Linked DNA regions of Homo sapiens. The protein of the gene in region 2 interacts with the protein of the main gene of each other region in a pairwise test. Each region holds a gene or a part of one and is shown on either strand. Other genes may lie near its edges.

Region 1 (7,322 bases), on a different chromosome or scaffold from region 2:
GAAGAAAGGAAGGAAGGAAGGGAGGGAGGGAGGGAGGGAGGGCTGTGGATTTGCCCCAAGCTGTCAGCTGATCATCTTGGCAGCAGAAAGGTTGGGACACTCCAGGGGTTCCCAGTGATGAGCTGAGGTCAGAGATGCATGCAGATGGGGAGGACCCCTGGCACAAAGCAGGCACTCCACAATTGTTTGAAAAACACAAAACAATTAAGTCAGAATCAGAAATGCTCTGCTGACGACACAGTCCCAAACAAATACTGGCTGCCACTATTATCATTAAGCAGGGTCTTGAAGCGTAAGTAACATCTGGAAGCTAACATGACGGAAGCTAACAGAAGTAGACAGGAGGCATTCATTTCAACTTAAAAAACCTGCAGGATGGCCGGGCACGGTGACTCACACCTGTAATCCCAGAATTTTGGGAGGCTGAGGCAGGTGGATCACCTGAGGTCAGGAGTTCAAGACCAGCCCAGCCAATGTGGTGAAACCCCGTCTCTACTAAAAATACGAAAATTAGCTGGGCATGGTGGTGGGTGCCTGTAGTCCCAGCTACTCAGGAGGCTGAGGCAGAAGAATGGCTTGAGCCTGGGAGGTGGAGGCTGCAGTGAGCCAAGATGGCATCATTGCACTCCAGCCTGGGCAACAGACTGAGACTCTGTCTCAAAAAAAAAAAAAAAAAAAAAAAAAAAAAAAAAAACCCCCAAAGCTGCAGGAGCCAAAGTAGTGTGGTGTCCCCACCTGATGTGTTCAGACAGGGTAGAGCACTGGTTCTCAGCAAGAGGCGATTTTGCCCCCCAACCCCTACAGGACACTTAGCAATGTCTGGAGACATTTTTGGTTGTCATAACTAGGGCTAGGGTGCTAACAGTATCTAGTGGGTAGAAGCCAGGGATGCTGCTACACGTCCTGCAATACACAGGACAGCCTCCATAGCAAGGAATTATCATGCTCAAAATGTCACTCAAGCCAAGATGGAGAAACTCTGTGGTAGAGTGGTCATCTCTTACCATTCTTCTACAAGACTGCTCTAACTCCAATACTCCAGTTGTACCAGCCTCCTCACTGTTCCTATCACACTCACAGCACCATTCCTTCTCAGAGCCTTTGTACCTGCTGTTCTCCCTGCTTAAACAACCATCCTCCAATAGTTGCAAAGCTCCCACCCTCTTTTTTCAGATCTCTTTTCAAATATCACCTTATCAACAATGTCTTCTCAAAATATCCTAATAGAAGATAAGTCACCATCCTTTATCTTATTTTTCTCATAGTATTTAACATCACCCAAACATGGTTTACTTGTTTTTTTGGCTTTTTATTTTTTTTTTTTTTTTGAGATGGAGTCTTGCTCTGTTGCCCAGGCAGGAAGGGGCAGTGGCATCAGCTCACTGGAACCTCCACCTCCCAGGTTCAAGCGATTTTCCTGCCTCAGCTTCCCGAGTAGCTGGGATTACAGGTGCACGCCACCACACCTGGCTAATTTTTGTATTTTTAGTAGAGGCAGGGTTTCTGCATGTCGGCCAGGCTGGTCTCAGACTCCTGGCCTCAAGAGATCCGCCCACCTCGGCCTCCCAAAGTGCTGGAATTACAGGCGTGAGCCATCGCACCGGGCCTTATCTGCTTTTCTCTCAAAATGAAAGAACCAAGGGATCCATGAGGGAATTTGTCGATTTTGTTCACTGCTATATCCCCAGTGCCCAGAAGTATGCCACATACTCCAAGTGCCTAATAAACATTTATTGAATGAATGAATAAAACAATGACTGGACATTAGGGAGGAGAACTAACGGGATTTAGAAGAGAGGCAGGACAGAAAAATAGTGCAGTAGTTAAGATGCATGAACTTCAGAATCACGAAGAGGTTCCAGTTTCAGCACCACCACTTGCTAGATGTGTGATTTGGGGGCACAGAACAGCCTCTCTGTGGCTCAGTCTTTTTATTAGTAAAATGAGGATAACGATAATAAAAGAAGGTACCTCCTGGACATCGATGGAAGCACCTGCCACTGAGCCTGACATGCAATCAGGGCCGAACAAATGTTAAGCTCTTGGTGGCATTGGTTTAGTGACCAGCAGAAGGGGGAGGAGTAGGTTTAGATAGCACTGAGGTTTCCTGTACAAGGACTAGAAGCTGGGGAAGAAGCCATTACTCAGGAAAGAGTAGGTATGAGGACTAAGGCAAGGGCGGTACTTCAGCTGCAGAGGTGGCCTAGGACAGGGGTGCACTGCGTGGATTCCGGGGCCAGACCCTGACTGTAAATCCCCACTCCTTCATTCACAAGCTACGTGGCCCTGCGCAAATTACTTGCAGCCCTCTGTGCTTCAGTGCTCTCATCTTTCAACTGGGGATAACAATACCTACCTCTTACGGTTATTGTGATGCTCAGTGATTTAGTTTACCTAAACCACCCAGAACAACGCGTGGCATATAGCAAGTGCTGTATGAAAAACTCTCCGTGCCTTCATTCTCTTACAAAATTAAAATGACCTTCACCTCAGTCTGAAACCCCACAGGCTTCAGCAGAGTAACCCCCAAAGATTTTCAGAGCTCCACCCTTCCTGGCCCCGAAGCAGAGATCTGCTGAGCAAATCCAACCGACAAGCGCCAGGCACAGGTAATGCACTATCGACCCTATGATTCCGGACGAATTCCCAACCCCATCCAATAGCCCACGCTCTACTCAAGAGACGAGAGCTGCCATTCCCGCTCCCTCCTCCCGCAAAACTGTAGAACCCGCCGGTAGAGGCCGGGAGCGCCCCCGAGGAGGGGCCGGGAAGAGGCGGGGCCCGGTTGCGACTCGCCGCCCGGGAGCCTGGGAGACCCAGAGGCTGCGCCCGCGCCCCCTCACCAGTAGCAGCTGCTGTAGACGCAGGCGTCCCGCGGGGGGCTGGCCGGCTGGTAGTGGACAGCAGCGGGGCCATTACCTTCCATGGCCGGCTAGCTGGGCCAGGGCCCGGGCCGGAGGAAGACCGACTGGACCAGACGTAGGAAAGGGCGGGCTTGTAGTGGCCCGCGTGGGTTCCCGGCGTGGGGTGGGCGGAGCCCGGGGGGAGAGGGCCGGGGCAGTTTCCGGGTGGTGGGGCCAGTAGCGCGGTGGGCGGGGCCAGGGCGGGACTAGCAGCACGAGTTCCCGGCGCGGGAAGCCCGGGACGAAGTAGGCGGAGCTCGGGGCAAGCGGCGCCAGTTCCTGGGAGGGTGGAGCCCAAGCGAAGTGGGCGGGTCCGGGGTGGGGTGAGTGGCGCGAACTCCCGGTGGGCGGAGCCCGGGACGAGGAGGACAGCGCGCTTCCGGGTAGGCGGAGCCCGGCTGGTGGGTGGGGCCCGGGATGGGGCGGGACTGGAGGACCGGGCTCTGGTGGGCGGAGTCAGGGGCGGGGCCCCGGTGAGCTTTGGGAGAAGAGGGGTCTCTGGCGGCGGCTTGGGGAGGAGCTAGGTTTGGGCTTGGAGTTGGGCCCTGAATGGCGCTTTGCTGTGAATCTCCGCGGGGAGGCTCTTCCAACCAGGGGCTGAGCTTCTGCGCTGTGGAGAAGCCAGGTGAGACACTGAAATAACAGAGGTTTGGGTGTGAAAATCCACGCTTCTGCACTCAGCCTGGAGTCTGCGGGAGCCCAGAGAAGAGGGGAGTGGAGGTTAATTCCAATATGACCGCATCGAGGACGCTTTCCGAAAGGGATAGCACCCCAAATCTCACTCTATTGTAACTTAATCTTTTAAATTGGAAGGCCTGTAGCTATTGGCTCGAAAAGATATATTAATTCCCTGATACAGTAAATTTGAAAAAAAAAAGTTTAAAGAGTCCATATGGTATCCTTTTTGTGTTAATCATATATTTTGTTCAATTACTGGCAGTCTGGAAGAAAAGACACCATATTGTTAAAATAGTGTTTAGGGCCGGGTGCGGTGGCTCACGCCTGTAATCCCAGCACTTTGGGAGACCGAGGCGGGTGGATCACGAGGTCAGGGGTTCGAGACGAGCCTGGCCAACATGGTGAAACTCCGTCTCTACTAAAAATACAAAAATTAGTTGGGCGTGGAGGCGCGCGCCTGTAATCCCAGATACTCGGGAGGCTGAGGCAAGAGAATCGCCTGAACCCGGGAGGCGGAGGTTGCAGTGAGCCGAGATGGTGCCATTGCACTCCAGCCTGGGCAACAGGGTGAGACTCCGTCTCAAAAAAAAAAAATAGTGTTTATCTCTGGTGAATGAATGATATTAATATCAGGGACTTTCAGTTTCAAGGTCTTTACACTTTACAGTCTTCTGAATTGTTTATATTTGCAATGAGCATAGCTAGCTAATCAGGGTACTTCCCATTATAAAAACTGAGATGTTTACATTGATTTTAGCCATCCACAGTTGGATTCTCCAATCTCTTCAGTCTCAAAGCTGATAAATCCTAAAGACTTGGAGCACAGTTCCTGTGTCAATTACCAATTTTATTGCCTCTCAGCTCCTAATACAAACTTCCACATAGCCTCTATGCTATATAACAACTCTGGTAAACATTTCTCCTTTAAAGTGAGTGGGAAACCCTATAAGCTAGAAGGGATTGGGGCCCTATCTTTAGCCTCCTCAAACAAAACAATTATCAGCCAATAATTTTGTATCCAGCGAAACTAAGCATCATATATTAAGGAAAGATACAGTCTTTTTCAGACAAATGGTGAGAGAATTTGCCACTACCAAGCCACCACTACAGGAACTGCTAAAAGGAGTTCTAAATCTTGAAACAAATCCTGGAAACACATCAAAACAGAACCTCGTTAAAGCATAAATCACACAGGACCTATACAACAAAAATACAATTTAAAAAACAACAAAAAAAAACAAGGTACACAGGCAACAAAGCACGATGAATGGAATGGTACCTCACAAGTCAATCCTAACATTGAATGTAAATGGTCTAAATGCTCCATTTAAAGTGAGTGGGACAGGTGTAGTGGTGAGAACATCCTTGTGGAGTCTGCCCCAGCCCCAGACTCAGAACATGGTCCCTTCCTAACCTTGCAGGTTTAGCCTGGCAATAACCTTTCTTCAGCCTCTTGACACAAAAACCAGGGTCCTCCCTAACCCTACCTTCTATACGGTAAGGTACTGAATAGAGTTTCCTTATGTGTTATCGTTATGCCTTTATCATAGTTAATAATAATTTTTTGGTGGGGGACAGGGTCTCCCTCTGTCACCCAGGCTGGAGTGCAGTGGTGCAATCATAGCTCACTACAGCCTCAAACTCCTGGGCTCAAGTGATCCTCCAGCCTCAGCCTCCTGAGTAGCTGAGACTGCAGGCACGCACCACCGTGCGCAGCTAACATAATTAATAGTTCTTTACATTTAACTTCCCTTGCTTGACCTACTGTGTAGTTTCTTATCCTGATTGGGCACAAACTACTTACTATAGGACTTTGAAGCTAGGCTGGGTAGGTTCTACAACTTGCCAGTTGGGTCACCTTGGGCAAAGTTACTTCACTCTTCTGTGTCTCACTTTCCTCATCTGTAAAATGAAGTTAAAGATAATGCTACTACCTCATAGGGTCATTATGAGGATTAGTTGAGTTTATGTATATAAAGTACTTAGAATAGTTGGTAGCATATAATATAAATGTTAGCAACTATGATTTTTTGTTAAAAAAATCTGATTTCATTATTTCCCGCATACCCTATACTTTTTTTTTTTTTTTTTTTTTTTTTTTTGAGATAAGAGTCTCACTCTGTCGCCCAGGCTGGAGTGCTGTGGTGCAATCTTGACTCACTGCAACCTCCGCCCCCACCACCCCAGCTAAATTGTGTATTTTCTTGTGGAGGTGAGGTTTCACCATGTTGGCCAGGCTGGTCTCAAATTCCTGACCTCAAGTGATCTGCCCGCCTCGGCCACCCTCCCCGCCGCCATACTCTTGTCACTGAGTGTCTTATTCTTCCTTTGATACCCCAAGCCTTTGCACAAGATGTATGTACACTCTGTCTGATGCATTCTTTCACATGCCTTATTTGCAGCTTTTCCCAGGAAGAGTTTATTGTTGGCTTCCATCTTCCTGGAGCTTTTTTTCCTGTTTTGTCACAACTTTTATTCATATGTCTTGAAAAGCAGTAGCATGCTCAGCAACTCAATCTGTCTCTACCTCTGCCATGAGCTCTTCCAGGGCATGGGTCTTGCCCTGAGAGGTAGAATAGTATAAATAGTGCTGTAGTCAGAAACACACTCAAATCTTATCTTGGCTACTTACTACCCTGAGTGACCTTGGATAAGTAACACTAGGATTTCTGAGCGTCAGTTTCTTTGCAAAATGAGGATAATAATAGTAGAGTGCTTATCTAATGGGTGCTGCAGTGAAAATTAAATAAACTAATCTCTGCAAAACACTTAGCATAGTGCCTGGCAGAACATAGGTACTGTCAAAAATAAACATAGCCGTTGACCATCAGTCAAAGCGATGAAAACAGATTTTATTCAGCAACTATTGACAGTAGGGGAAAGAGCTGAGCTCCATTCCAATTGTGCAGAGGTAATTTGGGCATTTGGAAAGAAGAATGAGGAAGCAGGGAGGAGTTGGGGGGGGGGGGGCGCTCATTAGAGCCAGGGAAGTGAAAATTACAAAGGGTTGGTCAGTGTAAATACCATTAGGCCAGTCGTGTCTGCTAGCTGGCAGTTATCTAAGTTAGGATTCTATCCTCCCACAGAGACTGGGAGTCAGAGGCCCTATCCTTCCTGATGATTACATTTCAAAGGAATGGCTCTCTAAGTCCTTGAGAAGGACTTCTGAGTTGTAAGTAATACATATTTACAATTCTAAGCCCTTTTAGTAAATGCTCTAAGAAAAGGAGGTCAGGGGCCTATCATCAGGTACTGGCAACAACAAATAGTAAATTTTCCTGGGAGCTTTGAGCTTTCTTAAGCAGGCATTTTAATGGGGGGTTTGGGGGAGAAGGCTGACATAGCCTTATACTGCTAGAAGCCATGCTAGAGTTTGGTCAAGTCTGTTAGTGCAGGGATTTGGAACCAAGTTGTGCTGAGAGTTCTGCAGTACTCAGTACCCTACGTAATAAACAACTACATAGGCCAGGTGTAGTGGCTCACCCCTGTAATCCTAGAACTTTGGGAGACCAAGGCGGGAGGATCGCTTGAGGTCAGTTTGAGACCAACCTAAGCAACACAGCAAGACCCTGTCTCTACAAAAAAAAAATTTTTTTTAATTAGCCAGGCATGGTGGTATCTGTAGTCCTAGGCACCCAGGAGGCTGAAGCAAAAGAATTGCTTGAGCCCAGGAGTTTGAGGCTGCAGTGAACTGTGATTACGCCACTGCACTCCAGCCTGGGCAACAGAGTGAGACCCTCA
Region 2 (7,536 bases):
TTAGTAGCTGACATGGATCTAAATATATCTAGTCTTTTATTACTGAGATAATAACTAGGCCAGGGTTAAGATAATCAATATGTATTCATTATTTATTATGGCTATATTAATGACCACTGTAAGTCAGACACTATGAACACAAAGTTAGATAAGGAACAATTCCTATCCTCAAGGAGCTCAGTCCTGTATGAGGGACAGAGATGTAAACAAATAAAATGTAATCATGCTATAACAAATATATGTAAAAAACTTATGAAAGCAGAAACCACGTTTCTTGTTCACTACTAATACATGCGAGAACATAGCAGATACTCAATAAATATTTCATGTTGGTCACCAAGTCGGCTTGAGAGAAAAATCAGAACGCATTCACAGGAAAGAGGCTACTTGAGCTAGGTCTTAAAGAAAATTGTAGTTCAGGCCAGGCGCAGTGGCTCACGCCTGTAATCCCAGCACTCTGAGAGGCCGAGACGGGCAGACTGCTTGAGCTCGGAGATCAAGACCAGCCTCCAGCAACATGGCGAAACCCTGTCTCTACAAAAAAATTTAAAAAAATTAGGCATGGTGACACACGCCTGTAGTCCCAGCTACTCAGGAGGCTGAGGTAGGAAAATGGCTTGAGCCCAGGAGGCAGAGGTTTTGCAGTGAGCCAAGATCGTGCCTAATTATTATCTCAGCCTGTGTGACAGAGACTCTGTCTCAAAAAAAAAAAAAAACCAAAAAACTGTAGTTCAGCAGACGGGTAATGAGGACACCACCTTAGAAGCAACTCCACCTTTTCTTTTTTTTGAGATGGAGTCTCATTCTGTCGCCGGGGCTGGAGTGCAAAGGCGCGATCTCGGCTCACTGCAACCTCCGCGTTCCGGGTTCAAGCGATTCTCCTGCCTCAGCCTCCCGAGTAGCTGGGATTACAGGCACCTCCCACTACGACCAACTAATTTTTCGTACTTTTTTTTTTTTTTTTTTGAGACGGAGCCTCGCTCTGTTGCCCAGGCTGGAGTGCAGTGGCACGATCTCGGCTCACTGCAAGCTCCGCCTCCTGGGTTCACGCCATTCTCCTGCCTCAGCCTCCCAAGTAGTGGGGACTACTGACGCCCGGCTAATTTTTTGTATTTTTAGTAGAGACGGGGTTTCACCGTGTACTTTATTAGAGTCAGGGTTTCACCATGTTGGCCAGGCTGGTCTCAAACTCATGGCCTCGTGATCCCCCCGCCTCGGCCTCCCAAAGTGCTGGGATTACAGGCGTGAGCCACCACACCCAGCCGCAACTCCACCTTCTGTATCAGTACGCTCTTTATTCAATTACGGCCAGCTGTCTTAAACTTCTGACGATCACAGTAGATACTGTGGTGGTTTTCAAATATATCCACAAATAACCTGAGACTCCTCCCTCCAAAGGGTGGGACATAACTTCCTTCCTCTTCAATGTGAGACAGTTTTTAAAACTGCCTCCCTTCTAACAAACACAATGTGACAAAAATGACAGTGTCTGATGTCTGAGATTAGGACATAGAGATTGTGGTTTCCTCCTTGCTCTCTTGCACTCTCTCTCTCTGAAGGAGGCCAGATGCCACACCAAAGGACATCCAAGCAGCACAAGAAGTTCATGTGGACAGGAACAGAGAGCTGGTTGCAGGCAAAAGGCCTAAACTATCAACAGCTGTAGATCCTTCAGCCCCAATCAAGGCTTCAGGTGATTGCAAATAGGAATCAACCAGCTAAGCCCTTCCCAGATTCCTTAATCACAGAAACGTAAGGTACAGGATAGTGGATAGACAGGGACAAAAGGAAGAGGATTTTGTTTTGTGTTTGTTTTGAATTGAGGAATAACTTGTCCAAGTTAATATGCTGAGAAAAGGGGACTGTGAAAATATGTGTATATAGATATGCGAGATTCACTAATAGATACAAGCTCCCACTCTGTGCTAAGTGTTACAGTTAAAACAAAGATACCGTCCCTGTCTTCAAGTCTAGTAGAGGAAACAAATACACACTAAATGAAAATATATTTTAGCATATAACAGATGAGTAAATATTATCAGGTACACAATTCTTGAGTATGTGACATGTCAAATATTAATTAATGTTTACTGTTTCTTGTGTTTAAGTCATGTTTACCTGATTACTAATATTTCTCTTAATGGGACATAAAAGTGAAGGCCTTTGTAATCCAGACTTTTAGGGTACATCTAGCGCCATCACAAAACCTCCAGCTAAAGTTTCACATTAAATTCTTAGGGACTGTTTTCTTGCGCATAACCATGGCTAAATAATTTTGTTCTCTCCCCTTCTTCAACTTACATTGCAGAGAACTTACATTTAAAGGCCAACATCACGGGTGAAGATGAATTAACATCCTTCCCTTCTCTTCTTTGGTTATGTGGGAAATTGTCATGCTTCCTTTTCCTGAACCCTCCTGATCCTTATATAGAGAAGAAAAAAAGAGAGGGATCTTCCATCACCAAGAGTTTGCAAAACACAACATAGACAAACCTACTCCTTGCTTTAAAACCAGATACCCACAGGGCCCTCGCCTTAGAGGCTTTCTCCGCAGACTGACAGAGACGCTGCCCAGGCCTTTCCAAGCAAATCATCCAAGTTTCCACCAACTGGTGCTATGATCTGGCATTACAGCAATTACTGAACTAGGATAAAATCACACCTCAAAAATTTAAGAAAAAAGGAGGTGTAAACAGGGCCGATCTGGCCGGGGAGAGAAACAGAGGGGCCGCCCCCGAGTCTACAAGGGACGAAGGCATCCTTCAAGGGTGAAAAGGGGAAAACTGCATAGAAAGACTGGAGAACCTCCCCCTCCGGATAAATAACGCCCCGTGTTGTTAAGGACGCCACCTTCTTTGTTGCTCATGTCGTCACAGCCTACGGTGAGACGAGCGGAGACTGAAGGACCTGGAGCAAGAGGAGTGCGCGAGGTACAGGCCGAGGGAACCTGGGAAAACAGCCTGCAGAAAAACGCTTTGCAGCCGGGCCGACTACAACGCAGTGGCCGGAAGTCTCCTCTCACGTACTTCCGGCCTGCGTCCGGAGGGGAGGGGAGGCCGTCGCCGCTGGCTCCGCCCACCGCGTGGTCCAAGGACCACCACCCGCCACCGCCGCGCGAGCGTACTATTGCGGCCGCCCTCTGCTGCGCCTGAAGAGAGAGGCGACTCTACAAGCCTCACAGCATGCACTGTTACTAAAAAGACGATGCGTCCTCCTGGACCTGAGATCTGTGTGATCGTGGGAAAGCGACGAAAAACGTACGTAATTTTTTTCTGAAGGCACCTTCGGGACACCTTACCCTTCCCTCAGGGGGGCCCAGCTTCGCGCGCGGTGCTGTGGGGGTTGTAGTTCCTCCGCCGGAGCGGGACCTCCGGTGCCCCGGGCCAGGGATGTGAGAAAGAAGCGAGCCCTCGAGTTTCCTCGGGGCATGTGGGAAGGTTTTTTTCAGGATCCAGGCAGAACCTTACAGAGCTGGGAGTTTTTTAACTTTCCATTCCTGGCAGTGACGCCAGGAGCTTTAAGTGATGGAAATATGCGAGTCAATCAGTGGATGGTGTTAGTACTGTTTTCTCTTATGAAGATCAAGCCTGCCCTTCGGGTCTACTTCCACCTTTTCCCCCTGCCCGTCTCCCACCGTCTCCCTCCTCTCCACTGGCTCTCAGAAGCCGGACAGCCTGTGTTCAACTTGCCTCCACGGAGTGGTTGTGTGACCTTGATGAAGCACGCAACTTCTCTGCCTCAGTTTCCTTATCTGTAACATAGGGATAGAATAGTACCCGCCTTGTAGGGTTATTTGAGGATGAAAGGAGTTAAGTCTCGTGAAAACGCTCTTTCACATATAACTGCTCAATTAAATATTAAATACCATACTCCTCTCCCACCAGGGCTCTCCCAAACAAAATGATAGACAGGTGAGTAATAGCAGCTGTGTTCCACTAAACTGTGGGCATTTCATTATGAGCAGGTGCTGCCACCATATCTAGACTTTGTGCCGCCCCTTAGCCCCAGTGCTTCTCAGCGCTGTGATCCGGTCCCATGTAAGCTTCCGTCAATGTTTGTTGAAGAATCATGTTCCTGGTGTCAGAATAGGTAACTAGATGGCAATTCAGCACCGTCTAGAGAGAAACTCAGGCCAAGGCTTCATAACTGGGGTGCCCTAGGCCTAGTACAGAAAACACAAGTACATTTTAAGCTTTCTCTAAATAACCTCTCTATTGTGGTCATGTGTTGAACACACAGTCTTTTCTCCTTGTTAATTTAGGAACAAAGGAACAGTAAATGGAGTAACTTGGCTAGAATATGGCAGTAACTACAAGGCATGTTCTGCTCTGGCACGAAGGTAACCACCACTCATACCTCTCCAGCCCTGTGAATACGTCAATTGACTAAGCAGATTCCTTGAGGATAAAGTAGGCTCCTGGGGACCTTGCTTGTTGGGCTACTTGCTTTGTGGATGTTAAACAGATAATTCTCATGAGTTTGAGTGACGTCTGATCTACCAGTATTCCCCCTACTCTGATTAGAAATGACTTGACCATGCCAAAAAGAATAAAAGACAGCTCTGATACAAATGTAGCCATTTTAATGTGACTCCCTCTAGATCCAAGGAAGCCAGTACTTACGAACATTTTCAGAGTCAATACTTACTGTACTGTACCATAGTCGAGGAAAAGGGTATTTTTCCTAACTCTCCTGGAGTAGCACATCCCAAGATCTCAACTTTCCAAAACCTGGATCAACTATATTTCTTTTCTTTCTCCAGCCACCACTCCCCTAGCCTGTTCAACTACAGCTATGTTACCTGAACTGCTTTCCACTCTTTCCCATAAATGTAATGATTAGAACACTAAGTTTCATAACCTGTAATGACTTCTGAAAGTATTTAAGGGAGGTGAATCCCAGGAGCACTTTCCCAGCACTTATTTGCATATGCATTTACCCCAGGCCTCCCCAGGTGTTCCAACTTGTAGCTACTCCTTTGTCAGGAAATAGATTTCAACTTCTGTAACAACCTGCATCCCTACCTGGTCTCCTTGTTTTATTGCTTCAGATGCAAACACATAGTTTTGGTACTTGGCAAAACAGTTTTTTGTTTGTTTTTTAAAGGAAGACAACCACCCCAAGTCAGGGAGAGGAAGGTAAAGATTTTTAGTAGGATCTTACCTCTGATGTTGTTTTTACTTGTTATTGTTGCTTTTTTTTTTTTTTTTTTTTGACACGGTTTCACTGTCACCCAGGCTGCAGTCCACGGCTCACTCACTACAGCCTCGACCTCCTCGGGCTCAAGTGATCCTCCCACCTCAGCCTCCCAGGTTGTTGGGACTACAGGCACATGCTACTATGCACGGCTAATTTTTTTTTTCTCTCCATTTTGTGGAGACGGGGTTTCGCCATGTTGCCCAGGCTGGTCTCAAACTCCTGGGCTCAAGTGATCCACCTGCCTAGGCCTCCCAAAGTGCTGGGATTACAGTGAGCCACTGTGCCTGGCCCCCTGTTGCATTCTAATTGCCTATATTTGACTCTGAATGAAGCACTAAGCCTTTCAATTGCATGGTGGTTATTCAGTTCATAAATCCTCTCATTGGTCACCATTAGATTAAGAGAAAAATCGCATATCAAAACTGGTTTGGGAGGCCAAGGCGCGCAGATCATTTGAGGTCAGGAGTTCGAGACCAGCCTGGCCAACATGGTGAAACAGTCTCTACTAAAAAATACAAAAATTATCTGGGTGTGGTGGCACGCACCTGTAATCCCCAGAGGCTAAGGCAGAAGAATCTCTTGAACCCAGGGCGGGAGTTTGCAGTAAGCCAAGATAGCGCCACTGACCTCCAGCCTGGGCCACAGAACAAGACTTCACCTCAAAACAAAAACAAAAACAAACAAAAAAAACTGGTTTTGGATATTGAAGGAAAATCATATAATCCAGTAAAGAGAAGATAATTAACAGATTATCTATTTCAGCATTTCCCTTATTTAGTTATTACATAAATAACTAAATCCTGGGGTAGAAGAGATCATGGGGAATTGTAAGAATCTGGAGTTTCTGTTTTTTAAAAGATAACCATAATATTTAAAAGATATCTGTGGGATCCAGAGTGGTATTGTGAAGTGTACACATTACCTTTATTGTGAATAAATTCAAAGATTTATTTTTCAAGCAATGCTAGGATGTAGTAGGAGAAAATGATGTTCCAGTTTTATAACACAAGAAAGAGAAGCTCATATTGAAGAAGTAAAGAGTGATGGGTAAAACCACAATGAGATATCACTTCAAATCCACTAGGATGACTAAATTTAAAAAGAAGACAGAAAATAATAATTGGTGAAGATATGAAGAAATTGGAACCCTGATCAATTGCTGGTAGGAATGTAAAATGGTCCAGCCACTATAGGAGACAATTTGGCAGTTCCTCAAAGAGTTGGACATAGAATTACCATATGACCCAGCAATTCCACTGTTAACTATATACCTTGAACACAAATGTTCATAGCAGCACTACTCACAATAACCAAAAAGTAGAAATAACCCAAATGTCTATCAGTAGATAAATGGATAAACAAAATGATATATCATTTGGCAATAAAAAGGAATGAAGTACTATTCATGCTGCAACATGGATGAAACTTAAAAACATTATGCAGAGTGAAAGGAGTCAGTCACAAAAGACCACTTATTATATGATTCCATTTATATAAAATGTCCAAAATAGGCAAATCTATAGATAGAAAGTAGATTCAAGGTTGCCTAGGGCTAGGGGCCATGTAACAGTGAGGTGGAGGGGTGATAGCTAAAGGATGTAGGGTTTCTTTGTGAGGAGACGGAAATGTTCTAAAATTGACTAGGGTGATGGTTTCACCTATTTGTGAATATACTAAAAATTATTGAATCAGTCAGTTTAAATGATGAGTTACATGTGAATTATACTTCAATGAAGCTATTAAAACAAATTTTTAAAAGTGTTGGGAAACATTCCTTTCAAGTCTTGTAAATATATTGTGTATATATATATATGTAAATTTACTATATACATGTAAATATATAGATAATTCAATGTTATTAGGAAAAAGCATTAAACAATATGGCTTAAGTTTATTTTTATTTTTATTTTTATTTATTTATTTTTTTGAGATGCAGTCTCGCTCTGTCACCCAGGCTGGAGTGCAATGGCACGATCTTGGCTCACTGCAACCTCTGCCTCCCAGGTTCAAGCGATTCTTCTGCCTCAGCCTCCTGAGTAGCTGGGATTACAGGTGTGTGCCACCATGCCCAGCTAATTTTTTTTTTTTTTTGTATTTTTAGTAGATATGGGGTTTCACCATGTTGGCCAGGCTGGTCTTGAACTCCTGACCTTGTGATCTGCCCACCTTAGCCTCCCAAAATGCTGAGATTACAGGTGTGAGCTACTGTGCCTGGCCGGCTTAAGTTTATTTTTAATACTCCATAACAAAAAAGTATGTAAAGTACTTTATAGGTTTGACAATATTTCAACAAATATTTCTGTGCCTGGTTTATGCCTGACAATGTGATTGGTGCCA
Region 3 (7,400 bases), on a different chromosome or scaffold from region 2:
GCAGGAGAATTGCTTGAACCCGTAAGGTGGAGGTTGCAATGAGCCAAGATCACGCCATTGCACTCCAGGCTGGGTAACAAGAGTGAGACTGTCTTAAAAAAAAAAAAAAATACATATATATATATATATATATATATATATATATATATATAATCTTGACAACATAACTGAAGACATTATGAAGTATTACATAATGAAAGTTGAAAATACTGCCAAAGAAACACATCAAAATGAAATTTTTCTCTACCACAAAAGCAAGAGAGAAATTTTGGTGGCAGTGAAATTTACTAAATTCAAGAAAAGCAAAAGCTACCCTAAACTTGACCAATTATTGCCTCAAACCAATGTTATCTGCCAAGGACTTGATAGGATGTACTGTAGAAAAGCCAACTTGACTCAATCACATCTGGAATGTTATTTTAACTTGCCCAGCTTGCCCTAATGCAGACTTGGTAGCTAACATAATAGCTAAGATTTACTGAGCACTTAGCAAGTGCCAGACTTGATGCTAAATATTTAAATACTTCATCTCACTCATCAACTCAGGTAATATATTATACTCCTTTTCCAGATGTGAGAACTCCCCTAAAATGACCAACCTCAAGACATCAAATCACTAGGTGGCACTAGGGGCTGTCAGGCCTCCCAACCAGCACTCTAACAAATTTATGTCGGACAGTCTCCTCTTTCATTAATTTATCCAAGCCTCTCTAAAACTTGGGTAATTTTTTATAGCTTATTACTAATAACTCATTTGCTCAGTCATTCAAATTGTTATTAAAGCCCTTTTTCTATGCCAGGCACTGTCCTTGGGACTGACAATGAGGTGGGAAATTAAGACTCAGACCTTGCCCTCAGGCAGTTTCTAGTCAGTGAGAGACATAGGTATTAATTATTCTAGTGCTGAGATCTGACAACAAACAAGTTAACAATAAATATAACAAACTGATTACAATTGTGATCAGCACTCTAAGAGTACTAGGAGAATGGAAATCTCCCCTAGACTGACAGGTCAGAAAAGGCCTCTCTGGGGAAGAGACCATTTGATATTTGCAAGGAAGGGGCTGGCAAAGCCCACTTGAAAAGAGAAAAGGCCATGTTGCTAGGACAGGCTTTCTAAGATCAGGACCATGAGAGAAATATAAAAATTAATTCATCAAGTCATAAGCAACATTAAAAAAAAAAAGAAATAGAAAATATCAAAGTGCATCCCATGAAGTAAGGGTATCTTTCTCTGAAACTTCATTTCAGTTATTTAGGGTGGTAGTTGTGTGTTTGTTTTTAACAGTGGGTCTGCATAGCTAAAATAAAAAGATGGGCTCAAGATGAGTCCCGCTCAAGATGAGTCCCCAGAGGTTCCAGCAGAAGTGGACCTTGCAGACTATGGTAAGTTTTTTTTTCTTTTTTAAACTTCATTCTAACGATGGCGGGTAATGATTAAAGAGAGAGCAATGGGAATTTTGTTTTTCAATTACTCTGGCTAAAATGTGGCAGAACAGATTGAAGAAGTTGATTGGAGTAGTTTTCATCTAAAACAAGAAAGACAGCTGGTTAAAAATCTGACAAGAATCAAAATTATTTTCATAAGAATGTAAGGATCAAGAGAGCAAGACTCTTAATACCTAAAACAGAGCCTTGCACATGGGAATCTGTCCAATAAATATTTGTTCCACGAATGACAATAGCCTAAGCAGGGTTGTGGAACTGGAAATAAAGACAAACAGAAATGGCAGAAGTAACATTATCAGAACCTGTTGTTGAGCGAGTAGAGTAAGAATAACGGAGGTATGGATGAAAATTCAAATTTCTGAATTGACTGTGTAGTCCGTGGTTCCTCCTCCCTCCCTTTTTAAACTGCAGGTCATGCTTAAGTATTTGCCTTTTAAATCTACAGCCACATCTTTTAAGCTTCAGGAAGTATCTTGTTGACAGTGTGCACACTCCTTAACTTTATGAACCCCTCCACCTTTATCTTAAAAAAAATTGAGTTCTAAAGCTTAAATCTCTCATTAAAATGTCTCACCACTTTGTTTCTTTCTGGATAGTTATGTTTTTGTCGCCACCTGAACTAATGGGTTGCACAAAAACAAGGAACATGCTACCTACGTTTTGTAATTTAAGTAAAAGACAAATTGAGTTATTACAACACAACATTCTCGCATCAGATATACTAATCTGCACATACTGCAGAAAATTACCACTAATAAACACTGTAAAAAAGTGTTTTTGTTTTTTTTAACAAAAACAGATAAGGTCCCATGTGGCACAAAAGCTTGAAAAGCTGGTTAAAAACCACAAAGTTATTAAAACACCGTCATATCCAAAACCGCAAATGCTGCAATGAAATCGGAATTATCTATCATAAAACTCCACAGTATGCTATAATTTCATTCATTCATTCAATGTTCATTCTATGCCTAAGACTGACACATCGCTAAAGCTCCGGGGTAGACCCCAAGGCCCTTCCACGCAGTCAAGACCCCACTAGGTCCAAATAATGCCTGAACTATACGTGGATTCTGGAAACCTCACAGCACAGAACCCATCCCGCCCTCCACTTCACCAGGCCGCGCTGGGCCCGGGTACCGCGGCGAGAGGCCTACGACGCCGGGCGGCTAGATTAAGTGCTTCTCTCCAGCCCCACTGGGAAGGAAGCCAGAGGGAAGAGACAGGATGGGGACACCAAGGGAGCTTTGCGGGGGTGGGGGTGGGGGTGAATCCGGCCCAGGAAGGCGAGAAAGTGCGGTTACCTAGACGCTCCCGTTCCGAAGGAGAAAACGCCGCCTGTGCTGGTCCCGCCGGCGGCCACGGTGGTGGAGCCCAGAGTCCCGGACCCGAAGGAGAACCCTGTGGACATGTCTGGCCAGGGCTCGACGCCGTCAGCAAGGCGAAATGGGTCTGGGACACTTCTCTCGCCTCAAAGCCGAGGCGGGCCGGGCAGCATCTCTCTCGCCCGGCACGGACCTGGCGGGAACTTCCAGCCCCAACGGCGGCGAAGGCAAGGCTGAGGGGGTGGAGCAACCACGCAAAAGTACGCCCGGCGCTCGCCGCGCGCACGTAGCCCGCCGGAAGTGTAACCGTCACGCAATGAGCCCTGGTACGTGAGTGGGGGACGGCGAGCCGCGCAAGGTACGCTGGGACCAGGCGAGAATAGGCGTACTGCCTAATCTCTTAAAGGAGTAGGCTCCCAGAGTTTAAAAACAGTAAAACCATTTCTGTCATTTTTTAGTTCTTCTATCGTAGCATCTGTACTGACATAATCCGCACTTTAGGGTGATGAATGTCAATTGCTACTTCTATCTAGCCTCCTGCCAAAATTGATGCTCAGAATCGCAGAATCGGGGAGGTCCCTCCTGAGCATCTCTAAGCTCCCCACTCAGAAAAGGAGGCGGCTTCGGGCTTTCGTTGGCTGCCGCCCCATCCCTAAGAAGGAAGGGGAGCGTGTCTGCTTCCTGAAGGTTCGGAAATCAATCGAAAATAATCCATGCAACCGTCCCACGACGTGAGCCCCACCCCTGCGCCCCAGGCCTCGCGGAGCCAGTTGGTCGCAGTTGTTGCGAGCCCGACGCCCAGCCCCGAAGGGGGCCCAGAAGAGCGTCCCAGGCGTCCGTGGGGTGGCCGGCTGTGGTCCTGGCGCCCAGAAGTGGCCAGGCCCGCTGGATTTCCTGGGATGCGGTCAAGTCCACAAATACTGTCCGTGCATCCTGATGCTGGAGGGCGGGACCTTGGGCCGAGCGAGTGTGGCTCCGCCAGAAGGGCCCTCGGACACAACCGGTGCTGGAGGAACTACAAAGTGGAAGGATTAGGAAACGCACAGGAACATGTACGAAAGAAGGCGAAATGTGAGGTGTAACTTACATTTCTAGGATAACTCAAGAAAAATTCGCGTTTAAAGAGAACCTCTCTGGCGAAGCATCAGGAAAGGCTTCCTGGTGGTGGTGCATTCGAGGGTTGTCATCATAGTGTTAGTTTTTATTTTTCCCTCAGGGATTGTTACATTACTCCCCCAAATGGTTTTCCTACTCGTGATCTCTAACAAAATCCATCCCATAAGCAACCCCCGGATTTATGATCTAAAAAGCCCAGTGGCTCTTTAGTTTGGCACTTGATGACCTCCGTATGATTAGTCTTTCTAACCTCATCTCACAGTTCTCCCTAATTCAGTACTTTAATCTTCCGTTGAGCTTGGGCATTGCCACCAGCTGTGGACTGAACTATTTCCCTCCTCCCCCAATCCATATGTTAAAGCCCTACCCCACCCCAATATGTTGGTATTTGGAGATGGAGCCTTTGGGAGGTAATTCAATTTAGATGAGGTCACCTTGGTGGGTCGCCCATGGCGAGATTAGTGCCCTTATGAGAAAAAACAACGAAGAGCTTGTTCTCCTCTGTGTGCCATGTGAGGACAGAGCAAGAAGGGGCTTTCACCTGGAACCCAAACTGCCCCATCTTTATCTGGGACTTAGCCTCCAGAATTGAGAGAAGTAAATGTCTGTTGTTATAGCCACCTCAGTCTATGGTATTTTGTTGTATCAGCCAAGCAGACTAATACACCACCTCTGTGTTTGTATAATTAAAAAGAAACGTACATTTTATTTTGTTTTTTAAATTTAATTTATATTTTACTTTATTTTGAGACAGAGTCTCGCTCTGTTGCCCAGGCTGGAATACAGTGGTGCCATCTCGGCTCACTGCAACCTCCGTCTCCTGAGTTCAAGCGATTCTCCTGCCTCAGCCTCCCAAGTAACTGGGATCACAGGCGCACGCCACCACGCCCGGTTAATTTCTGTATTTTTCAGTAGAGATGGGTTTTCACCATGTTGGCCAGGCTGGTCTTGAACTCCTGGCCTCAAGCGATCTGCCCACCTCGGCCTCCCAAAGTGCTGGGATTACAGGCGTAAGCCACTGTGCCCGGCCATAACATTTTAAACGTCATAGAAGTCATAATGGGAATGATAAAAAAGAAAAAAGGGATATATTTGGATTAAGATATAAATAAAAACTTCATAGTTATCGAACAGGAGGCAAAAATAAAAGATTGTTGTGAGTTTTAAAGCTTCGGTGATATAGAGAAAGCTATTTTCAGTGATGGCTATAGGGTGGTCAGTAAGAGGATTGTTCACATAAAGTCTAGGAGACTTCCTTTTGACTGAAAAAAAAAAAGATCCTGATGATTTTTATGGGAAGATAGAAAGGCACTCCCTATGTCTTTTGATTTTCTCGTGTATTCTTTCCAAAACTATTGAAGAATACCAACCTACAATTAGTAATAGCAAAATGGCTGGCACTTAAATATATAATAATGAACAAGACTTGTAATATTCACAGGAAAGAAAGAACATGTAAAAATATCATAGGGACTAATTTCCTAATAGGGGAAACTGGGTGTGAGGAATATGAGCACACTATGTAATAATTCTGTAAATCTGTAACTTTTTTTTTTTTTGGATGGAGTCTCACTCTGACACCAGGCTGGAGTGCACTGGCTAGATCCTGGCTCACTGCAACCTCCGACTCCCTGGTTCAAGCGAGTCTCCTGCCTCAGCCTCCTAAGTAGCTGAGATGACAGGCATGCGCCACCATGCCCAGCTAATTTTTGTATTTTTAGTAGAGCTGGAGTTTCACCATGTTGGCCAGGATGATCTCAATCTCCTGACCTTGTGATCTGCCTGCCTCGGCCTCCCAAAGTACTGGGATTACAGGCGTAAGCCACCGCGCCCAGCCACATCTATAACTGTTTTGAAGCTGAACGTTTATAAAAGAAATAAAGGAAGTCTGACTTAGATTAAAGTTTGGGTTTTGGGGGAAGCCATTCCAATTAACAAGCAAACTATCCTTTCAACTTTATCAAAATTTTAGTGTAGCATTTCTTGCCTTGTATCTGGCAGAATATTTTAAGTTATACTACATAATAAATCCCCAAATCACTCAAGGAGGAGCACTGCAGAGACAAAATCTGGAATATCTGATGAGCAGTATTGCAATCTACCACTAGATGCACTAAGTATAAGACTAAATCTTGGAGACCCCTTCTCATCTCATATACCTTGTGCCGCTTGTCCTATTAGTGAAGAAAGAAATTACATCCTTACATTCTACAGAAATGAAACTCCAAAGAAAGCAGCTTTCAATAAGCTCAATGGTTTGGTTAGTGAATGGAAAACAGTAAAATAGCAGTAACTGAGCATTACGCATACATAAGTCTGAATCCTATCTGCAACTGAGCAGAACCATGGAGCACTGGAATCTGGCTTAACCTTCCTGACCTAGTCTAGGTAGAGTAACAAATCCTATCCCAAAGGATCTTCTAAATATTACGCTTTTTAACATTAGAGGACTTGAACCTATGTGTCAGTTCTATGTGAATTGCTGCTTCCAGGGATGAAGCAAGTGCTTCAGATTCTAAATTCTAGAGTAGGCCATCTTGTCTTTCCTTGCTTCTTATATTGTAAGCATTCTGTTAGAGAACTGCATCTTTTGCTGATTTGCCAGCAGGATGATGACATTGTTAATGTCATAATCAAACTGAATTATCCAAACAGAAATAGCACTGTAAAAAATTTACTTTTTTTTTTTCTTCCTTTTTGAGACAGGGTCTGGCTCTGTGCCCAGGCTGGAGTGCAGTGGCACCATCTTGGCTCACTGCAACCTCTGCCTGTCTGGCTCAAGCGATCCTCCCACCTCAGCCACCCGAGTAGCTCGGACTACATAAAGGTGTCCACCACCATGCCCGGCTAATTTGTTTATTTGTAAAGATGGGTTTTCACCGTGTTGCCCAGGCTAAAACTTCTAATTTGTGTTTGCATTAACATATCTAAAATAGGTTTGCTTTGGTGGGGGTGTTCAGATCAGGATAACCATTTGAGAACCTCTCTCAGCAGCGGTTCTAAGACAGAAAAGAAGTGGGAATCTGAAGTCTATTGAAAGGAGTCTGTAATATCTCCAGTTCTGGTCCTCTGAAATATCCAGAAAAGAGGTTATCTTTTAGAAATTACATGTAACCATTTGCCTTCAATCACAGTCTTTATCTTGAAAATTATTCTCAGAAAAGGTCTTAAATATTTTAGGGTTTTAAATATTTGAGTAGTGTCCTTCCACTTTAAAAATTCATTAAGTTCTCAAGTGATTGAACAACAGCAACAACCAAATGTATATAGAGAGATAAATCAATAATGCAAATTATAGGATGACTGTCAAAACAAGGTATATGGGTGTTCATTGTAATAATTTTACAACTTTTCTGTAGGTTTGAAATTTTCAAACTACAAAGTTAAGGGGGAAAAGCTTAAAGTTAAAACAAAAGTTCCCAATCACAGGTCAGAACAGTAATTGTCTATTTCCTGATGAATTTTTTCACTCATCACCCAATAAATGAGAAAAATAAATGTAAGGAGTTATCC
Region 4 (7,985 bases), on a different chromosome or scaffold from region 2:
ATATCATGCAGTCATGCATATTATCATACTAGAATGCAAAGACTTGGCAGTGCAATTTCAGTTTGTACATCAAACAACTCTTGCTACCAAACCATTTATGTTTTAAATGATGGCCATATTATGTTGTCTGAGTTCTGTTTGAGCATGTCTAGTGTGAAGGCATAATTTCCTTTCCAAGGTATGCAATATTTGCATGGTGTCTAACTGTTACACTCACACGTGCATCATTTCATCAAACACGTCTGCCCATGTACTCACTTGCAGTCCTCGCTCTCCAGCAGGCTCCGGTATGTGTTGATCTCACACTCCAGCCGGGCACGCACATCCAGCAGCACCTGGTACTCCTGGTTCTGCCGCTCCAGGTCACTGCGGATCTCCGCCAGCTGGGACTCCACGTTGGTGATCAGGCTCTGCACCTGGGACAGCTGGGAGCTGTAGCGGGCCTCACTCTCTGTCAGCGTGTTTTCCAGAGAGTCTCGCTGTGGTGGAGAAGATTGGGAATGTCAGAGAGCTGCTCCTTCAAAGGGTTTCTTCACAGGATTACAAGGAAGTCACAAGCTCCAAGAGCTAAGGAGAGTGTGTGGCCCCAAGCACATCCCCGGGACTCTGCCTCCCAAGTTCCCGTCGCTCACCAGCAGGTCTGAACAATACACACCAGGTTGTGCTGGGCCTGCAGCTCGATCTCCAGGGCGTTGACTGTGCGTCTCAGCTCGATGATCTCCGCCTGGTAGGACTGCAGCTGCTCTGAGCTGGATACCACCTGCTTGTTCAGCTCCTCGGTCTGAAACACCCAAGGGGAGAAAGGATCAGACCCTGCCTCCGGGGCCCTGGGGGGCCTTGGGTCCTGAGGGGCCACGTGCTTAGATGCCCACCTGCGTGGTGAACCATTGCTCCACTTCCCTGCGGTTGGTTTCCACCAGGGCCTCATACTGACTCCTGGTCTCGTTCAGCACCCGATTCAGGTCCACAGTGGGAGCAGCATCCACCTCCACATTGAGGCGGTCTCCAAGCTGGCAGCGCAGGGTATTGACCTCCTATGGATGCAGAAAATACAAGAGTTACTATGCTCAGCAAAGAATGAACTCTAAGGAATGGCATTGCTTGTTGAAACCCTGTTAGTCTATTTTCTCGGAAAAGAAACTTTGAGTGGAGCAGTTTGTGACAGCTCAAGGCACTCCATGTGGCATAGCCCCCTCCCCACCATCTGCTGTGCCATGGCACTTGGCTTCAGAAAAAAATCCCAAAAGTTTGCTTGGATGCCACTGAAGGATGAACTAATTGATATTCAACTTTCCCAGTTTACAATTGGCTGTGAGGACCTCAGAATGCCAAAAAAAATAGGCTGTGCAATTTCAGACCATATATCAAAAAACTCTTGCTGTCAAGTAAGAGGTAAGAGCATGTCATGGCCCCTCCCAAGAGAGAGGAAGAATCTCACAAACACTCTTCACCAATACTTTGAAAGAGTAGAGACTCACATTTATAAGGTTTGATATTTTTTTTCTTGGCCTTTGCCAAAAAAAAAAAAAAAAGACTTTACAAAGCAATAACACTGCAATGCTAGGACTCATTCTACAACTATTGATCAACTGCAAGCACATGGAGCTGCTCCGGGCAACTCAAATAATGTGCTAGTTTAAAGTGAAAGATGTTTCCTGTCTGGGAACATGAACAGGTCTTATCTCTCTCCAATTTTTCTCTTACCGTGATGTTTTCAAAGGAAACCCTCAGTCTTGTACTCATACTCTGCATTCTGCTGCCCCAAATCACTAAAGCAACCCTGAGCCAGAGGCTGAGACAGGTTTGTGCATTTCTCATTTCTAGTCTCACCTGCTCATGGTTGCTCTTGAGGCAGAGCAGCTCCTCCTTCAGGGACTCCACCTGGGCCTCCAGGTCGGACTTGCACAGGGTCAGCTCATCCAGGATCCTGCGCAGACCGTTGATGTCCGACTCCACCAGCTGCCGCAGGGACAGCTCGGTCTGGTACCTGCGCAAGGACAGGGTCAGAGTACTACCTGGTAGATCTTCAAGACTCACAGGAATGATTTTTGATAACCTCATGTGCCTTATCTTTCCACTTTCTGTAATGAATAGGCCCAGGAGACAGAGGTTTCTGGAGGCTCCATCAATACCCAATATTCATCCCAAAACAAACAGATTGATGTGAGTCCTCATCCATTTTTGCATTTCTTTGCTTGGTTCTCCCCAGTCCTCTGCAGAATCCTTCACAACAAGTGGGTAGATCTGTTTTCAGATGGAAATCCCTTTTCTTTAAAGATTAAACAGAAGCAATTGACACTAGTGCAAATTCCGAACAACTCACTTGGTTCTGAAATCATCCGCAGCCAGCTTGGCGTTGTCGATCTGCACCACAAGCCTGGCATTCTCAGACTTGGTACACAGGATCTGGGGAGTGAGAGGTGGCTTAGTGAGGACTGAAAATAAATATGAAATCATCAACTTTTTAAAAATGACTTAAGCCATTTTGAAATAAAAGAGGAAGCAAGAATTATGACAGCACAGAAGCAAGAAACACACTTCTCTATCACAGACAGAATCACAGCAAACTCTCTTGCTTGGAGATGACAGCAATGCCGCTCACCTTCTGCTGGAGCTCCTCAATGGTCTTAAAATAGGACTGGTAACTGGGGCACAGCAAGGGCTCCTGCTGCTGAGACCGCTCCCGGATGAGGTTCTCCAGCTCCGCGTTGTCCCGCTCCAGCTGACGCACTTTCTCCAGGTAGCTGGCCAGGCGGTCGTTCAGGAACTGCATAGTCTCCTTCTCGCTACCATTGAAGGAGCCCTCGCAGAACCAGTTGCAGTTGCTCACATTGGCGGGGATGTTGCAGGCCCCGGGCAGGGTGCAGCTGTGGCAGCTGGGGGGCACGCAGGGCCGGGAGGAGCAGCTGGTGCGGCAGCTCAGGCTGGGCAGGCAGAAGTTGTAGGGCATAGTGCTGGGAGGGAGGGAGGGAGTGCCTGGCTGAAGACAGAGTCTAAATTCTCCAAGCCACAGAGCTGTGGGTCTCCTTCCTCTAGGGAGCATTTATATCCCACTGCAGAGGGTGTGGACACAGTATGTAATGTCTTTTTTCTTTTTATTTCTTCACTTCTTTTCAAACGCCCTTTCCTTCAGTCTGTTATTTGCCTTCCTCTGAAGAGTCCCTTCTCCCATAAAATTCTTTACTTGGGCTTCTTGCTAAGTCAGGACTCCTCCGCAGACAGTCCACCCATGAAATCAGAGTTCTGTGGTAGGCCTTCAAAGAGGCTACACAGTCCAGCCCAAGTATCTGCCCTCATTAATTGAGGTGTTGATCCATCCGATGACATTCTTTTGTGTCACATAATTCTGCAGGCCCATAAACATACTCATGTCCTGGTCCACCTGCCGTTTCTAGGGAGAAACACGGATTGATTTGAGGAAGAAGTTGCATTAAGAGGCCACAGTGGACTGTCTTTCCCTCTGCATTTAGAGAAGAATCTTCAAATGATGGAGCATTCTGTGCCTTGGAAGCCTTAAGGTGGATGATTAGAATCAATGGAGGACACGACTGAAAAGATTAGACAGCGATTTGTGTTTTACGGGTCCGTGTAATACTTCCCCCCCACCACCACATATTACTTAAGAAAATTGTAGAGGAGAGAATTTTAAAGGTAGAGGCTTTGATAACTAGTTGGAGAACAAGAAGTTTCTGGGGTAAGAGATCGTTTTGAAAGAGGCTGAAAAGTGCAAACCGAGAGAGCCATAAAAAACACATTTAAGGCTGGGCACAATGGCTCACGCCTGTAATCTCAATACTTTGGGAGGCCGAGGCCGGCGGATCACGAGGTCTAGAGATAGAGACCATCCTGGCCAACATAGTGAAACCCATCTCTACTAAAAATACAAAAAAATTAGCTGGGCATGGTGGCACCCACCTGTAGTCCCAGCTACTCGGGAAGCTGAGGCAGGAGAATCACTTGAACCTGGGAGGTGAAGGTTGCAGTAAGCCGAGATGGTGCCACTGCACTCCAGCCTGGTGACAGAGCAAGACTCCATCTCAAAATACAAAACAAAACAAAAAAAATGCATTTAAATAATCTAGGAAAGATATTCAGGGGCAGAGAGAAAGGAATAAGGAGGTCTTTGTCAAACATTTCCTAAGGTTATCCATAGTATCCGAACAGAGTAGATGGATATGTTAGGAAAGTCAGGAGATAGCCCAAAGGGGCCTCCACGGCCTGAAATCACTTGTAGTTGATCTTTAAACTTCATATGAATTGACCCTATATTCCATAATATATCCATGTTGGCTTTAATCTTTATATATATATATATATATATATTTTTTTTTTTTTTTCAGATGGAGTCTTGCTCTGTCACCCAGGCTGGAGTGCAGTGGAGCGATCTCGGCTCACTGCAAGCTCCGCCTCCCAGATTCATGCCATTCTCCTGCCTCAGCCTCCTGAGTAGCTAGGACTACAGGTGCCCACCACCACGCCCGGCTAATTTTTTGTATTTTTAGTAGAGATGGAGTTTCACCGTGTTAGCAAGGATGGTCTCAATCTCCTGACCTCGTGATCCACCCGCCTCAGCCTCCCAAAGTGCTGGGATTACAGGCGTGAGCCACCGCGCCCAGCCAGCTTTAATGTTTTTAAAAAGCCCCTTTTAAATTTCCAGTTAAACTTTCAAATACTTTGCTTAATTCTCTAAGAGAAATGGATACATCAGGAAGATGTACCATATTCTGTCCTGGGCTTCCCATCTCCAGCCCGAGTGGAGATGCCACCTGCTTTAAGAACCAAAGGTCTAAAGGTACCAAAGGAGGTCTCTGTGGTTGTGTAATTAAATCCAAGGACCTGGGCACCAGGAAAGAAAATGCTGAGCACGGCATGAGCAAGGGGGTTTTGCAAGGCAAGCTGGAGTCATTTGGGGTTGCTTTGGGAGGTGAAGGAAGGCACTAGAAGATCTGAGGAAGAGGTAGCCAAAGTTCTGAATATATAAAAGTTGCAGCACCCCCATCTCCACTGTGGCTTTGGCTGCCAGCCAGAGCTGCCGTTTTATTGACAATTTATTGGAGTGCTTCTCCCATTGAGCTTTCATGATGGTATTCATGTTGCACTCTGCTTGAGTCTCAGATAAAAGGTCCTTCATCTACACTCCCCAAGACCATTATCACTGCTTATTATAATGCCATTCAGATGAAAAGCCCCACAGCACTACAAAGAAGATCTAGACTTATAATAAAATCAATACTTTCGTTTCCTTACAAGACAATTAAAGGGGGAGAAATAGGCGGGTCTACAGACTGTTACTCCTGAGACTCTCCAGAGGAAGGACGCAAGGCTAGGTGGCAGCTGTCTGTGGGGAGCTTCTGTCTCATTTCATCTGGGCTTGGGATGAATGGAAAGGCTCGTGCATCTGATTGATGAGCACTAGCTTGTAGATGACAGCATAGGCCTTCTGCTTCCTAACTCTTGTCAGCCTGCTCCAAGCACTGGCTTTCCAGCAAGCAGCTATTTCCTCAGCCCTTTCTTCTTCCCCAGTCAGGCAGGCTTTAACCTAAGCCCAAACTAAATGCCAGCAGTATTCTCCAAGCTCTTGATTCCTATCTACTGATTGGCTGGCATAGCCTCATGGAGACTGTAGTCAAAGAAGAGTGTTTAGGCTCTAAGTATGAGAAGATTCAAGGATTGTATTGACAAGAGAGCAAACATAGAATTTTTGTACAATGCAGAGAGATCAGAGAAATGGAAAGAGACGGAGACCAGGAGAGACAACAAGAAAAAGAAGAGACAAGGAAAAAAGTTGGGAGGAATCCTCAGCATCATGCAGCAAATCAGACAAAGTTAGCCCAGCTTCCGAGGGGCTAACCTGGAAAATGCAAAGCTGAGAAGAAGCCAAGACAAAATAAGCCAATAGACTGAGGAGTGGCCCACCGTGCTGAGTGTCCTGCAAGGCGTAAATGGAGTTGACTCATAAAAGATCTATGGACACAGGACTACAGCTTCTGAGGCCTCTGAAAGAAGTGACATTGTTCCAAGCTGTCCAGACCGAAGCATCACCTCTGTGATCAAGCTTGAGATTGTTTGTGGCTGAGAAATATACTGCCATCTACACACAGGCAGTGTAAAGTCTAAAAGGAGCGACACTGCCTGTTCCTGAAGGAATAAGAAGTGGGAAGAGAAGAAAGGAGAAATGAAGCAGGGAGAGTCAGTCCTGCACTGGCTGCAGGTCATGGCCAGTCAGCAGCCACACAGAAGATGTAGGAGAGAACAAGAAACCCCTGTTATCTTCTGGTTACTCCTAGATATTCCTTTTTCTACCTGCTGGTTGCCCTGCAGAATGTGAAATGGCACAAGAATTCAAGATGGGGACCACAGACAGACTAGCTGGTGAGTAAACACAATGCTGCCATCTCTTGTGAATCTAGCCTCTTTCTTGCAGTGTTTTCAAGATCTCAATGGGCTTGAGTGAATTTGCTCCTTGAATTAGTGGGGAAAATGGGACCCCAGGGTTGTAAGATCCCCATGACCTCACACAGGCGAGGGGTAGAATTCATGTATTCTCTTGGTTTCCTAGTTGGAATATTTGCAAATTTTTTTCATTCAAGGAGAAATTGAGCAGTCAATGGGCTATCAAACCCACATTCATTATCCAGTTCAATTTAATTCAGAACACATTGATTAGACAGCTTCTCTATGCTGAGCATATGACTAAACAGAAGAATCATAGTTCTGGTGAAAAAAATGTCTTTTTATGAACAATTCCGGCCAAGATGGGTCCTCAATATGTATGAGAAATAGCCAGAAGTTAAGGAAAGGAGATATTTAGAAGGTGTAAGATGGGCATTTAGAAATATGTTTGTATTCAGTGTAAATAGAAAACGGGTACTGGGTGCAGTGGCTTGCATCTGTAATCTCAGCACTTTGGGAGGCTGAGGTGGGAGAATCACTTGAGCCCATGAGTTCAAGACTAGCCTGGGCAATATAGCAAGACCCCATGTCTACAAAAAAAATTAAAAATGAGTTTCAAAATTAGCCGGACGTGGTGGCACATGCCTGTAATCCCAGACACTTGGGAGGCTGAGGCAGGAAAATCTCTTGAACCCGGGAGGCGGAGGTTGCGGTGAGCGGAGATCACGCCATTGCACTCCAGCCTGGGCAACAAAAGCGAAACTCCATCTAAAAAAATAAAAATAAAATAAAATTTAAAAATGAGCCAGGCTTGGTAGAGCACATTTTAGTTCCAGATGCTCTGGAGGCTGAGGCAGGATGATTGCTTGAGCCCAGGAATTTGAGGTTACAGTGAGCCATGATCACACCTCGGCACTCCAGCCTGGGCGACAGCAAGACCCCATCTAAAAATTAAAAATAAATAAAAAGAAAACTGTACATGTGACATTATGGGCATTAGTCACTTGTTGAACATCTACTGTGTGCTTGGCACAGTCCCAGGGGCAGGGGACATGGTGGGGAGTGGGGGTATGTCATGTCCCTGCCCCCAGGAACTCTGAGTCCTGCTGAGCAGACAGGTCCACAGCTAGCATAATGTAATGTGATTGGGCCTTCCCCCAAAAATATCTCCTTCCCCTACCCACTCCATTTCTTCCTACACCCACCCCTGACCCAAACCCCATTCAGGGCATTCCAATCCAGCTCATGATTTTCAGCCACACGGCGAGGGGATGAAGCCATTTCAGGTTATGCACTTGATCCCAAAGAGTTTTTTGTGCTTCGCTCTCTAAGTGACTCATAAGCAGAATTCAGAGAACTGTTCTCATTAGAATCTTGTTCCCTTTAATAATCTAGTCTTCAGCCAGGCAGGGTAATGAATTGTTTTGGCATCTGGTTCTTGTTGCTTTGGAGACCACAGGAGAGGCGGTGGTGATGGCCCATCGCTTCAGCCCTGTGGCATCCCCACAGGATCCATGGGCATCAAGGTAAGTTTCAAAGCAAATGAAAGAGGCTTTTGCCAGGTGCAGCATAGGAAATCATTCCAGGGATGT

The links.
Region 1: the proteins of TSNAX (region 2) and NTAQ1 interact in binary tests that used the Homo sapiens proteins (3 or more experiments, as listed by UniProt).
Region 3: the proteins of TSNAX (region 2) and NUP58 interact in binary tests that used the Homo sapiens proteins (3 or more experiments, as listed by UniProt).
Region 4: the proteins of TSNAX (region 2) and KRT31 interact in binary tests that used the Homo sapiens proteins (3 or more experiments, as listed by UniProt).

The regions. Positions count from the first base shown.
Region 1 is NC_000008.11:123,412,454-123,419,775, reverse strand, and holds the start of NTAQ1 (protein N-terminal glutamine amidohydrolase), read right to left. Parts: upstream 3,003-7,322; 5' UTR 2,927-3,002; coding exon 2,844-2,926; intron 1-2,843. UniProt on the Homo sapiens protein: Mediates the side-chain deamidation of N-terminal glutamine residues to glutamate, an important step in N-end rule pathway of protein degradation.
Region 2 is NC_000001.11:231,524,141-231,531,676, reverse strand, and holds the start of TSNAX (translin-associated protein X), read right to left. Parts: upstream 3,009-7,536; 5' UTR 2,867-3,008; coding exon 2,851-2,866; intron 2,423-2,850; coding exon 2,318-2,422; intron 1-2,317.
Region 3 is NC_000013.11:25,297,231-25,304,630, reverse strand, and holds the start of NUP58 (nucleoporin p58/p45), read right to left. Parts: upstream 3,007-7,400; 5' UTR 2,858-3,006; coding exon 2,751-2,857; exon of another isoform or gene 1,623-2,750; intron 1,530-1,622; exon of another isoform or gene 1,476-1,529; intron 1-1,475. UniProt on the Homo sapiens protein: Component of the nuclear pore complex, a complex required for the trafficking across the nuclear membrane.
Region 4 is NC_000017.11:41,394,590-41,402,574, forward strand, and holds the start of KRT31 (keratin, type I cuticular Ha1), read right to left. Parts: upstream 3,020-7,985; 5' UTR 2,951-3,019; coding exon 2,603-2,950; intron 2,407-2,602; coding exon 2,324-2,406; intron 1,988-2,323; coding exon 1,831-1,987; intron 1,035-1,830; coding exon 873-1,034; intron 782-872; coding exon 656-781; intron 480-655; coding exon 259-479; intron 1-258.